3 separate regions of the Homo sapiens genome follow, and all the other regions are linked to region 3. The links come from fine-mapping of genetic effects on gene expression. A gene starts in region 3. Each other region holds a variant in brackets. All regions are shown on one strand. Distances are from middle to middle.

What was found.
Region 1: its variant is fine-mapped to the expression of NDUFB11 in whole blood (TOPMed, PIP 0.91).
Region 2: its variant is fine-mapped to the expression of NDUFB11 in whole blood (TOPMed, PIP above 0.99).

Annotation. Positions count from the first base shown.
Region 1 is chrX:47,227,471-47,231,660 of GRCh38, forward strand. It overlaps CDK16 (cyclin dependent kinase 16), which reads left to right. Exons shown (of 16, transcript NM_006201.5): 15 at 1,097-1,174; 16 at 1,261-2,527. The coding sequence ends at 1,298. Among named protein-coding and RNA genes, the nearest start is that of USP11, 3.4 kb to the right of the region's middle. RefSeq lists enhancers at 919-1,419, 1,420-1,920. The variant C/A (reference allele first, on the strand shown) is at 1,607.
Region 2 is chrX:47,267,686-47,271,881 of GRCh38, forward strand. No RefSeq gene overlaps it. Among named protein-coding and RNA genes, the nearest start is that of USP11, 37 kb to the left of the region's middle. The variant G/A (reference allele first, on the strand shown) is at 2,571.
Region 3 is chrX:47,142,967-47,147,162 of GRCh38, forward strand. NDUFB11 (NADH:ubiquinone oxidoreductase subunit B11) reads right to left here and starts at 1,736. Exons shown (of 3, transcript NM_001135998.3): 1 at 1,507-1,736. The coding sequence starts at 1,713. It overlaps RBM10 (RNA binding motif protein 10), which reads left to right and starts at 2,255. Exons shown (of 24, transcript NM_005676.5): 1 at 2,255-2,519. RefSeq lists an enhancer at 2,279-2,548.

The DNA.
Region 1 (4,190 bases), 85 kb after region 3:
TGAGTGGAGCTGGGGAATGGACCGGCCAGCGTGGGGACTGGGAAACAGGACTGCTGGGGCCAGCTGGCGGGTTGTGTAGGATTCTGGCTGTGCCACCTCTACGTGGGGGGACATCTTGTTCACGTGTGTGATGGGTTGTATTTGTTATGAAAACATTTTTTAGTTTTCAGTTCCTTTTACCTTTCATGAAAAATTTAAAACATACATAAAAATATATGCAATAGCACTTTACTTTTTTTAAAGTAGACATTTCCTTACATGTGCTAAAAAATGCACAAATCATAAGTATACTATACAATGAATTTTCATAAATGAAACACATCCTTGTAACTAGCACAAAAGTCAAGAAACAGAATGTTAAAAGCTCCCCACCCCCAGCTCCCTTGCATCTCCTTCAGTTATTCCCAGCCCCTTCCCAAAGGGTGGCCACTGTTTTGACCTCTAACAGCAAGGATAAGTTTTTTCTGTCCTTGTACTTTATAGAAATAGAATCACATGTGATGTTCTTTTTATATCTGGCTTTTAAAAACTTTTTAATATGGATATTTTCAAATATATGTATTTATATATTAGTCAAAGTAATATGATGAGTCCCTAAGTACTCCAGTGAGTCATCAATTCATGGTCAATCTGGTTTTATCTATATTCTCTCTGATTATTTTGAATCACATCCAATCCCAGACATCATAGCATTTATCCTTAAATAATTTCAGCATATACCTATAAAAGATTTTTTTAAAACAACAATATTATTATCAAACCTACAAAAAACATTTGCTCACTTTCCCTATCTTCCCACTGGATTAATATATAAAGCAAACCCCAAACACCACCCATCACCTAGACTTAACAGGTGGTAATTGCAATACCATAATTCACTTGACAAAGTTAATAATGATTTCTTTGTGTCATGTAATAGTCTATATTTCATCTTCCCTGGTTGTAGCTGGTTTGTGTATGGAATTGTTTGACAGATAAAGGTCAAGCCTCTCAGAGAAGGGGCAGCTTTTTCTAATTCTTCCCATGGGGTCATATGGGGCTGGTCCTAGATGACCTCATGGGTCATCCCCCACTTCTATGTCTCCCCCATCTGTAGCTACTTCCATATTTGCACTAAAGGAGATTCAGCTACAAAAGGAGGCCAGCCTTCGGTCTTCGTCGATGCCTGACTCAGGTAGGTATAGCCCCTTGTCTTCCTCCCTGCCCCACCCACCTACCTGCTTACCCACCAACAGCCATCTGCTCTGCTTTCCCCCACAGGCAGGCCAGCTTTCCGCGTGGTGGACACCGAGTTCTAAGCCACAGACCGAGGCCCCAGCAGGCAGCGGCTGGAGGGATGCCACACCCCTCACAGGGCAGCCCCCAACTACATCTTCCCTGCTTACTCTCTGCCTACCTGCCTGAGCCATGTTCACCTGCCCACTTGTCCCCTGCTGCCTGCCCAAACACCCCACCATTGGCCTGTCAACCCACCCATTGGCCTGTCTGCTGGGTGCTAACAAAGCTCTCATCACTCCTTCACTTGGTCTGTCTGTCTCTGTCTTGGTAGTTGCCGGTGGACAGCATGGCCGTGCCAGCCTCCCACACTGAGGCCAGGTCTACCCCC[C/A]ATCATACCAGCCCCCAGGACCACTACCCCACGGCCAGCCAGGGGTCCAGAGCTAGCCCAGGCTGGGGATCTCGACTCAGACAAGATGGTGACAATGCCTTGAGTCTGAGGCATCCTCTGCCTGCTTTCCTGCCTGCCCCACCTGCCTCATATTGTGTGGGCCTTTTTTTGTTTGTTTCATTCATTGTTTTTTTTTTTTTAATTATTTTAAATGAGATTTTTGTTTTTTTTAAATGCAATATCTCTGTATACAGACTGGCTGGGCCCCACCCCCTGCGTGTGGCCCTCCCACAGTATTTTGTGCAATGAAGCCCTGCTCCCAGCCTTTCAGAGACAGGGACACAGCCCCTATTTGGAACCCTGATCATCACCAGACCCTGGGATTGGCTATGGGAAAGCATGCCACAGCCACTCGCCTTCCTACCCCCGCCCGCCATCCCCAGTTGCAGGGGGATCTGGGGACTACCAGAGACTCTGGGAAATGGACAAGGTGGGGGGCCCCACTCTTTCTCTCCTGCAGTCCCGTAGCTGGGGCCTCCTTCCTTCTCAGGGTCTCCCCAGCCCAGTCCCCTTGCTCCCATCCCACTCGGTGCTGTTGGGTAGGGGCCCTGCCAGGAACTGACCAGCTCAGCGAGGAGCCATAATGTGCATATGTGCACAAGCAGGGTTGGGGGAGGGGGGTGTGAGGGGTTGTGCCCAGGTGTTGCCCCCTATCTCCTGGGGAGGGTGAGGCAGGGCAGGGACAGTCTCCAGGGTCAGTCCCTGGATGGGTGGTTACCTCCCCTTCCTCCACCCTAAGCCCTGGGGCCCTGAAATGGGGTGGGAGGGCAGGGGTGGGAGCCCTCCTAGTGGGTTTGGGGGGTTGGGTTCCTGAATGCACCATAATCGCTGTATGAAATATTAAAAAGTCTAAAGTGAAAAGCCTGCTTGCAAATCCCTGTAGGGGTGGAGGGTGGCCGAGCTGGGGTGATTATTGGGACCTTGGAGAATTCATACCTCATCACCACTGTCTAGGAAAACACTGGGAGTGGGCCAGGGACACGTCACGACTATGAAAAAGGCATCTAAGGTATTGCATATGTAACAGTAGAACATGGAGTTGAAGCAGGTAGGGCAGGCTGAATGGTGTTGATGGGTTGAGAAGCAGAAAGGGGAGTTAGATTTGCCCAGGAATATGAGGAAGCCTGATAAGAGGGTGGAGGCAGGGAAGTGGAGAGACGATGTTTGAAAGACACTGGACGGCCCAATAGAACCATGGATGGGAAGATGAGGCAAAGGCCCAGTATGGCCATCTGACTAGGAAACCATGAAGAGGAGGGAATGTTCAGGACGGTAGGGGGTAGATTTTGGACCACTGAGTAGGTAGAGAAATCCTTTAATACATGGATCAAATTAAGCAGTGGGGCCATAGATGGACCTGGAAATTTCAATTATTAGTGTCCAGGAAGTAACAGAAACCATGGGCATGGGTGAGAGAGTTTGCAAGAGGCCAGGGATCAATGACACAACCTGGGGTTTGCCCTCAGATATGAGGATAATTGAAACTTATTTTCTTTGTCCTGTGAGTTCCAGCCCCAGTCCCACCATCTTGGGCAAAGCCAAGGATTGTTTTCTAAGCAGAAGAGGGGGTGAGCAGGGCCAGGCAAATACTGCAAGTAATGGCAACCCTAATTAAGTGGCTGTTTACTAAAGCCCAGTGGTGGGGGCCCATGAACTTCTAATCACTCTACTGTGTGTGTTTGTTTTTTGAGACAGAGTCTCTGTCGCCCAGGCTGGAATGTGGCGGCACAATCTTGGCTCACTGCAACCTTTGCCTCCTGGGTTCAAGCGATTTTCCTGCCTCAGCCTCCTGAGTAGCTGGGATTACAGGCGTGCACAACCACGCCCACCTAATTTTTTATTTTTAGTAAAGATGGGGTTTCACCATATTGACCAGGTTAGTCTCGAACTCCTGACCTCAAGTGATCCACCCACCTCGGCTTCCCAAAGTGCTGTGATTACAGGTGTGAGCCACCAAGCCCAGCCTCTACCGTGTCTTTCTAAGCACTTTAGTGATGTTTCAGCTTGCAGCCTCATGGTGCCATGATGACTGCCATGTCCCCAGAGATGGAAAAGCAAGCAGGGAAGACAGAACACCTTCCTTACCTGTCTGTGTTCTTTTAACGGCTGGAACTTCCACAAGCTCCTCAGCAGACTTCCTGTGCCATTTCTTGGCTAGAATCAGATGACATGGCCACTTCTGGCAGCAAGGGAGGATGGGAAAAGGAGGGCCTTGCAAAGGGGGACAGGATTGCCAGGCTGGATTTAAAAGGTCTAGAACTCACCCAACTGCTCTGGGAAGTGGTAGGGTCACTGGTGTGGGCAGAGGTTGGCCTCTGGAAGGTGGAAAAAAAAAAACGGTCTAGGGCTGGGAAAGGAGGTCTCTTGGATTTACCTGGCTGCCCAGATAAATGGGGAGGGGGAGTCTGCAGAGGGGCAATGGGGAGAATCAATTCAGAGAATCTGACAAGATTCAACTGGGCTTGAAGAGCAGCTATCTGCCATGTGTCTGACTCAACTCAAATGCCACTTTCTTTGGGGACCC
Region 2 (4,196 bases), 120 kb after region 3:
TTTGTAAAAATCTCTACCTTTCCCCACAAAGGGATTTCAGCACAGTGGCTATTTTAACAGATACCGTGCAGCACGTACCACACGTTCCCTTCCTGAGTCCTTGAAAGTAATTTTCAGCTTTTGATCGGCTATATTGTTCTTCCCAGCTACATTTTGGGAAGTCCAGCAGAATAACTTGCTACTCTTTTAAAGGTCCTAATGATAAAACGAAACAAAACATCCCCTTTTTATCATCACCCACAAAGCCCTAATGCGTGCAACAAAGATTGTGAAACGTCCAGGGAACAGTTTGTGAGACAGAAAGGATGGCTTTGTTGATTAGCAAAAAGCTGGAACGTGGACACCGGCAACACAACAGGATTGGGACCCGCCTTCTTCAAGTGAAACAAAGTTGGAATTATTTTCAATTTTAATGTTAAATGGTTTTTTTGTTTGTTTCCAAATTATTTGAAAAGTTACTAATCCAAGCGTGGTATGAGTGGTATCATTTTGGTAATTAGATTAATGCACTACCAGATCCTAGAATTTCCCACTTTACCAAATAAAAGAATGTTCTGTGGAATTCTCCTAGACCAAGACAGGCTTTTCCCCTGAGCAATAGTGATAAAGTTGTCTAAATACATGAACTGGTGGCATTTTTCAAAAAGTAATAATGTTATAATCAAGAGGTGGTGTTGCTATGTTGCCCAGGCTGGTCTTGAACTCCCAGTCTCAAGTGATCTGCCAGCCTTGGCCTCCCAAAGTGCTGGGATTACAGGCATGAGCCACCGTGCCTGATGGTGGCATTTTGTCTTCTTCACAGAAAAAGTTAAAAGATGAGTTGGATGACATTGTGAATTGTGAACAACATAGTGAGATCCCGTCCCTTAAAAAAAAAAAACAAAAATTAGCCACGTGTGGTGGTGTACCCCTGTAGTCCCAGCTACTCAGGAGGCTGAGATGGGAGGATCATCTGAGTCTGGGAGGCCAAGGCTACAGAGAGCTGAGATTGCATTGCTGCGCTCAAGCCTGGGTGACAGAGTGAGACCCTGTCTCAAAAACAAAACAAAACACTGCCTATTTTATTTATTTATTTATTTTGTAGAGATTAAGGGGGGGGTCTCACTATGCTGTCCAGGCCGATCTCAAATTCCTGATGTCAAGTGATTCTCCTGCCTTGGCCTCCCAAAATGCTGGGATTACAGGGGTCTTTAAATGCTGGGGATTGGCATCTTTAAAATGAACACACTGTTTTAGTTTAAGAGACTAAAGAGGTGCATGTGTATGGAATAAATGAGCCTGGACTGAATCTTGTCTTTTAAAAAAGTTATAAAAGATGTATGGGACAACTGGGGAAAATTAAACATGGACTGGATATTAAGTGATATTAGGGAATTATTGCTAATTGTCTTAGGTGTGTAAACGTAACATGATAATGTAAGAGAATGTACTTACTTTTAGGAGATGCATGCTGAAGAATTTAGAATTGAAGGAGATTGCTGTCTGCAACTTACTTTCAAATGGCTGGAGGCCGAGCACAGTGGCTCATGCCTGTAATCCCAGCACTTTGGGAGGCCCAGGCAGCGAATCACCTGAGGTCAGGACTTAGACACCAGCCTGGCCAACATGGCGAAATCCTGTCTCTACTAAAAATATAAAAAATTAGCTGGGCATTGTGGTGGGCACCTGTAATCCCAGCTACTCGTGAGACTGAGGCAGGAGAATTGCTTGAACCCGGGAGGCAGAGGTTGCAGTAAGCTGAGATTGCACCACTGCACTCCAGCCTGGGCAACAAGAGCGAGACTCAGTCTCAAAAAATAAAAATAAAAATAAAAATAAAAAATAAATAAATAAATGCAACCTTGCAGGAAAAAGTACAGAAAAGACTGTAAGTCATGTACAGACACATGACTGAAATTAAACTACATAAACATTTCCTTATATCTGTACAGAGGCAGTTTCACGTAGTAATTAAGATTCTGGAGCTGGCTGGGCGTGGTGGCTCACGCCTGTAATCCCAGCACTTTGGGAGGCCGAGACGGGCGGATCACAAGGTCAGGAGATCGAGACCATACTGGCTAACACGGTGAAACTCCGTCTCTACCAAAAATACAAAAAAAGAAATTAGCCGGGCATAGTGGCGGGTGCCTGTAGTCCCAGCTACTCGGGAGGCTGAGGCAGGAGGATGGCGTGAACCCGGGAGGCGGAGCTTGCAGTGAGCCAAGATTGCGCCACTGCACTCCAGCCTGGGTGACAGAACGAGACTCCATCTCAATAAAAAGAAAAAAAAAAAAAGATCCTGGAGCCAGACTGCCAGGGTTCAAAGTCAAGCTCTGTCACAACTAGCCGACTGTGTGGCCTTGGGCACGTTATTTTTCTTTGCTGGACCTCACATGACCCCAGTGCTCAGTCTGGAAATTTTTGCCTGATGACATTTTAATAATTATTAAATCTAGATGGTGGACATATGAACATTTATTGTACTAGTCTCCGTACAAAACCTTTTTTTTTTTTTTGAGATGGAGTCTTGCTCTGTCGCCCAGGCTGGAGTGCAGAGGCACTATCTGGGCTCACTGCAAGCTCCACCTCCC[G/A]GGTTCACGCCATTCTCCTGCCTCAGCCTCCCGAGTAACTGGGACTACAGGTGCCCACCACCACGCCCGGCTAATTTTTTTTTTTGTATTTTTAGTAGAGACGGGGTTTCACCGTGTTAGCCAGGATGGTCTCGATCTCCTGACCTCATGATCCACCCACCTCAGCCTCCCAGAGTGCTGGGATTACAGGAGTGAGCCACCGTGCCCAGCCATGTGCAAAACCTTAAGTAAGCTGGGCTCAGTGGCTCACGCCTGTAATCCCAACACTTTGGGAGGCTGAGGTGGGTGGATCATGAGGCCAGGAGTTCGAGACCAGCCTGACCAACATAGTGAAACCCCCATCTCTACTAAAGATATAAAAATTAGCCGAGTGTGGTTGCAGGGGCCTGTTATCCCAGCTACTCTGGAGGCAGGAAATTGCTTGAACCCGGGAGGCAGAGGTTGCAGTGAGCTGAGATTGCACTCTGGCCTGGGCGAAAGAGTGAAACTACCTCTCAAAAAAAAAAAAAAAAAAAAAAAAAGTGTGCAGATAACCTTGGTTAGTGTTTTAGAATATATTACTTTAAAACAATCCCAAACTTACAGAAAAGTCACAGGTATAGTACACATAACTTTTCTCTCTGAACCACTTAAAGTTAAGGTGCTTAGTCACATACTTTGGTTGAAAAAAATAATTGTTAACCTGATGCCTGATCATCCCTGAATGCTGTAGTGTGTATTTCCTACAAATGAGAACGTTGGCCAGGCGCAGTGGCTCATGCCTGTAATCCCAGCACTTTGGTAGGCGGAGGCCGGTGGGTCACCTGAGGTTAGGAGTTCAAGACCAGCCTGACCAAACATGGTGAAACCCCATCTCTACTAAAAATACAAAAATTAGCCAGATGTGGTGGCGGGCGCCTACAGTCCCAGATACTCAGGGGGCTGAGGCAGGATAATCACTTGAACCTGGGAGGCAGAAGTTGCAGTGAGCCGAGATCACACCACTGCACTCCAGGGTGGGTGACAGAGGGAGACTCTGTCTCAAAAAAAAAAAAAAAAAAGAACATTCTCATATAACCAAAATATAGCCATCAAAATGTAATATGTTATTACCATCTAATCTCAAACCCCATTTAAGTTTTATCAGTTGTCTCAATAAGGTCCTTTCTAGTCAGGCATGGTGGCTCGCGTCTGTAATTCTAGCACGTTAGGAAGTTGAGGTGGGCAGATTGCTTGAGCCCAGGAGTTCCAGACCAGCTAGGGCAACATAGGGAGATCCTGTCTCCACAAAAAATACAAAAACCATCTGAGCCTGTTGGTTCGAGCCTGCAGTCACAGCTACTCAGGAAGCTGAGGTGGGAGGATCCTTTGAACCCAGGAGGTCAAGGCTGCAGTGAGCTGTGATTGCGCCACTGCACTCCAGCCTGGGCAACCGAGGGAGAACCTGTCTCAAAAAAAAAAAAAAAAAAAAAAAAAGGAAGAAGTCCAGGCCCGGTGGCTCGTGCCTGTAATCCCAGCAGTTTGGGAGGCTGAAGCCGGTGGATCACCTGAGGTCAGGGATTCGAGACCAGCCTAGGCAAAATGGTGAAACCCCGTCTCTACTAAAAATACAAAAATTAGCTGGGTGTGGTGGTGCACCCCTGTAAT
Region 3 (4,196 bases):
TCAAGGTTTTAGATTCATCACCACTTCCTTCAGGAGGCACTCCCTAGTTACCTTGTCTTTCAAAGTTGAAGCATAGGAAACTGCTATTTTTATAGGTCACAAATGGTTGAATACTGGCAATTTCTTATAGCTCAAGCTAATGAAATAGCCCCCTACACCCAAGTCATTCTCTATCCACTTATCTTGCTTAACTTTGTCTTCACATCCTCTCTTCCTTCTGTCTCTTTCTAGTCTATGTTTACCTAAGTAGCATACTTTCCCCATTCTCTGTATATCATACATTCTCATGTTATATTATCTATTATACTACTTTGTATTATTGTTTTCTAATATTTTACTGTTTATTTTCTGTCTTCCCCACTATCATGTAAGCTCTATGAGAGCATGGGCTTTGTCTGATTTCCACACTGCTGTATCCCCAGGGCCCTGAACTGAGCCTGGCATACAGCAGGCCCTCAATACATATTTACAGAATGAACAAGCATCCTATATATCCAAGCCCCTTAACCAGAGGTTAGTATTGATGAAGTACTTATTATGTGCCAGTCTTTTCACATAGAAACACCTCACAATATCTCAGTGAGGTGAAACATGGCAATAATAAACACATTCTAGTGCTGAGTACATACTTACGAAGTGCCAGCTGCTGTTCTGACCATTTTTACTCATTTAATTACATGAGGCAGGTGGGGTGTCCTATTTTTTAGAAGGTGTCCTATTACTGTTCCCATCTTACAGACAAAGAAACTGAGGCACCAAGGGTTTATGCTACCAAGATCACACGGGTGGGTAACCGTCAGTGCTGCCTGATTTCACAGCGTCTGCTATTAATACAGCACAGCAGACCTGGTAGCCCTAAATTCAAATACCAGTTCCACCTCCACCATGTATTCAGTTATGTGAGCTAGGGCAATCCACTTAACATCTCTGTGCCTCAGTTTCCTCATCTGTAGGATGAGTATAATAATAGAGCCCACCTCGAAATGGGGTTTGTTTCGAGTATAAGATGAGCTAATGCATGTCAAGTGTTTAGAACACAGACGGGGCCCGGAGCGGTGGCTCATGCCTGTAATCCCAGCACCTTGGGAGGCCGAGGCGAGAGGATCGCTTGAGCCAGGAGTTCGAGACCAGCCTGGGCAACATAGCGAGATCTCGTCCCTATAAAAAAAAAAAAAAGAATGCAGACGGCAACGAGCAAGTGCCATATCGGTGTTTAGTATTATCGTTGTACTATACTGCTTCTAACGTGTTTTGAGCGCTGTCCACTTGAGGTGTGATTTCTGTCTGCAAAATAAAACCAATCCTGCCTCTGGCCCTGGAACGAAGATACCGAGAGACAAAGGAGGAACACAAGGTAGGCAAAATTCCCAAGTCTTCTAGGCTTTCGCCGGCCGCGCAGTCCTCTACTGCCTAAGAACGTCCTCTACAGCGCCCCATCTGCCGATCCCGGACTGACCCCTTCGGGGTTCCGTCCCCACTACCCCCCCCCCCCCCCCCGCCTCTCACCTTCTCATACAAGTTTTCGTCCTCGGGTTCTGGGTCCTCTTGCCACGGTGTGGTCGGTTCTGGGGGCCGCTTTCCCGCCACAGCGGACGGGGCGACCACAGTCCTGGAGAAGCTAGATTCCCAGCGGACGCGGGCGGCCGGGAGCCCTCGCGTCGCCGCTGCCGCCAAAAGACGGCGAGCGCTCAAACCAAACAGCCCAGCCGCCATGACAGATGGTGCTGCAGGGTCTCAGGGGCGGGGAAAGAAATGCGACTGTGCGCAGCTGCAGTGGGTGCGAGCGCGACAATCATCGCCCCGCCTCCGCCACGCTATATAGGTCCCAGATCTGATTTGGTTTTCCAATGAGGCGGGGCGTTGAGCAACCCTCTTTGCCTCCAGTTGTCGTGGCTTCGTGGGGCCAACCATTTTCGGCCAGGCTGAGAAATTTCTTATTGATGGGTCTGCTCATTTCCTGCATAGGAAGAAATCGGTGACATTTGGGTGGATACAGTTCCCAGCCAATCGCCCCGAGTTCCCTCGCCCACTGGGGAAAGAGGCAGAGCTTCCGCTAGTCTTTCATCTTCAAAGGAAATCAAGCTTCTAAAAAGCGGGCCCTGCCGAATTGGCTAATAGCTACTCCTTTTCTCCACTAGGGGAGCGTTCGCAAGGGGTGTGGGGAGGTGGCCAGCGCTTGCCAATCAGAGGAGGCCAGGGCTGTCCCCTAGCGGGCGGTGACCAATCGCCGGGGCCGGCCAGAGCGCGCTTCCTTAGTAGGTGGATGGTGGTCGGAGCGCCGACTCCCTTCTCGTCGTCGCCATTTTGAGCTGGTGACTGTGGCCGGCTGGGAGTAGGCGGCAGTGAGTTTCCCTGGGAGGGCAGCGCGCTTGGCGCTTCTCCCCTCCCCCCGATCTGCCTCCAGTCTCGGACTTGGTTGTTGCGCGCTCCGGCTCCGGCTGAGCTGGGAGAGTTGGAGGAGGTGGCGGCGGGCAGAGGTGATGTCTGGGAGCCCTTCCTTGACAGCCCGGGCCGAGAAGGTGAGCGTCGACGCTGGTCGTGGGGGCGGAGGTAAGGGGCCCGGGGCGGGGACGTAGAGGAGGCGCGAGGGCGGACTTCGGGTCGGGGGAGATGCGCGGAACGGAGGGGTTGGTGCAATGTCTCAACCCGGGAGGGTTTTTTTTTTTTTGGTTTTTTTTTTTTTTTTTTTTTTTTTTGGTGTGAGCAAAGGCGCGTGCGCGACTGGGACATGGGATGGGTGCATGCGGGTTGGGGGAAGGGAGGGACGGATGGGAGTGGGCTACTGTGGATCACTGTGTCGGCTACATCGAAGTTTATCAGTGGGGAAGCGGTTGTCTGCGACTTTGAGTTTGTGCATAGGAGAGGGGATGCTGCTCTGTGTTACTCTGGTGTTTATCGGTCCATGGGGAAATATTCTGTGGTTCTGGTCTCTATTCCTGGGGGATCGGAGGGGGGATGTGACTCTGGTCTTTACCCTTTGAGGGGGGGCGGTCTGTGACTCTGATCCTTATCCATGGGGCGGGGCTTGGGGGACGACTGTCTTTTGATTGACCCTAACCCACTTATTGGGTGGGAAGGGGCATGCAGGGAATGTGTGTGTGACTCATTGCCCCTTCTTTTGGGGAGTTTGTATCTGTGACACTGACGCTCATCCATGGAAAGGGGACCCACTGTGTAATTGTGGTCCTTACTGTGTGTTCCTTCTGTGATGTGGGCCCGTAGTTATTTGGGGCTCGTGTCTGTGACTGGCCCTTGGCTGTGGTGGATGTTACTGTGTGACTCTGGCCCCTTTGCCAGAGTCTCTTGAAGGTTTTTGTGCTCTCAGACGCCAGTGCCTCTGTGTGATTCTAACTCTTGCCCACCTGGGAGCAGGTAACTCGGGTTCCCTGTGGCTTGAGGAGGAAGAGAAAATTGGAGTGTGTTTGTCTGTGTATGTGTGTGCACGAGCATAGAGCAAAGGTGTGGCAGCAACCTAGTGTTGAGCAGGTGCTATTATTGCCTGGCTTTACCTGCTTCTTATTCAGAGGGTGGGGCCTGAAGATCTGGGATTCATCCTGACCTCTGGCTGGGTCACAGGGTTCTCAGGACTCCCTGAGTTCTCACCACAGCCCTGAGGGTTGGATGAAGTGGCTGCTGCTCCATCCCAATAGAAGAGCACAGTGGTTCAGAACAGCCTCCAAAAGGGCCCCTTTTGCCTCTGGAAACCGGGCTTGAGCCCTGGGGAGGGAACCACCTTAGGACCGGGCTGCACATAAGAGACAGGGCTCAGGGCTGAGCCAGTTGCTGTGTGAGGGCCAAGGCTGTGTTGGCCAGGAGCCCAGGGAGGTGGCAGCTGTCTCGTCGCCAAGTTCGCCCCTTCACACACCCCCCCAAGAGCCTTTCATGGTCTTTTGCTGCCTTATAGGGGACAGCCAGCAGCTTGTTGGGAGGATGAGATGGTCCCTTGGGGCCTGTGGAAGGAGCCTGGGGCCCCCATTGTTGTGAAGTCTTGTCTGATGTGCTGAATCTCAGGCAAGACTTTCAGCCCTGAGAGTCCCCTACCCCCACCCTGGGATGCAGCCCCAGGCTTGAATTTGTCTACCTGTCTTAGGTGGCAAAGCCCTGATCACACTGTGGGTGGCCCCGCCAGGTCTCTCTGCAAGATGCCCCCTGTCTGCTGAAGTCCTTGCTGTTTTCTAGGGCAGTGGGCTCTAGCC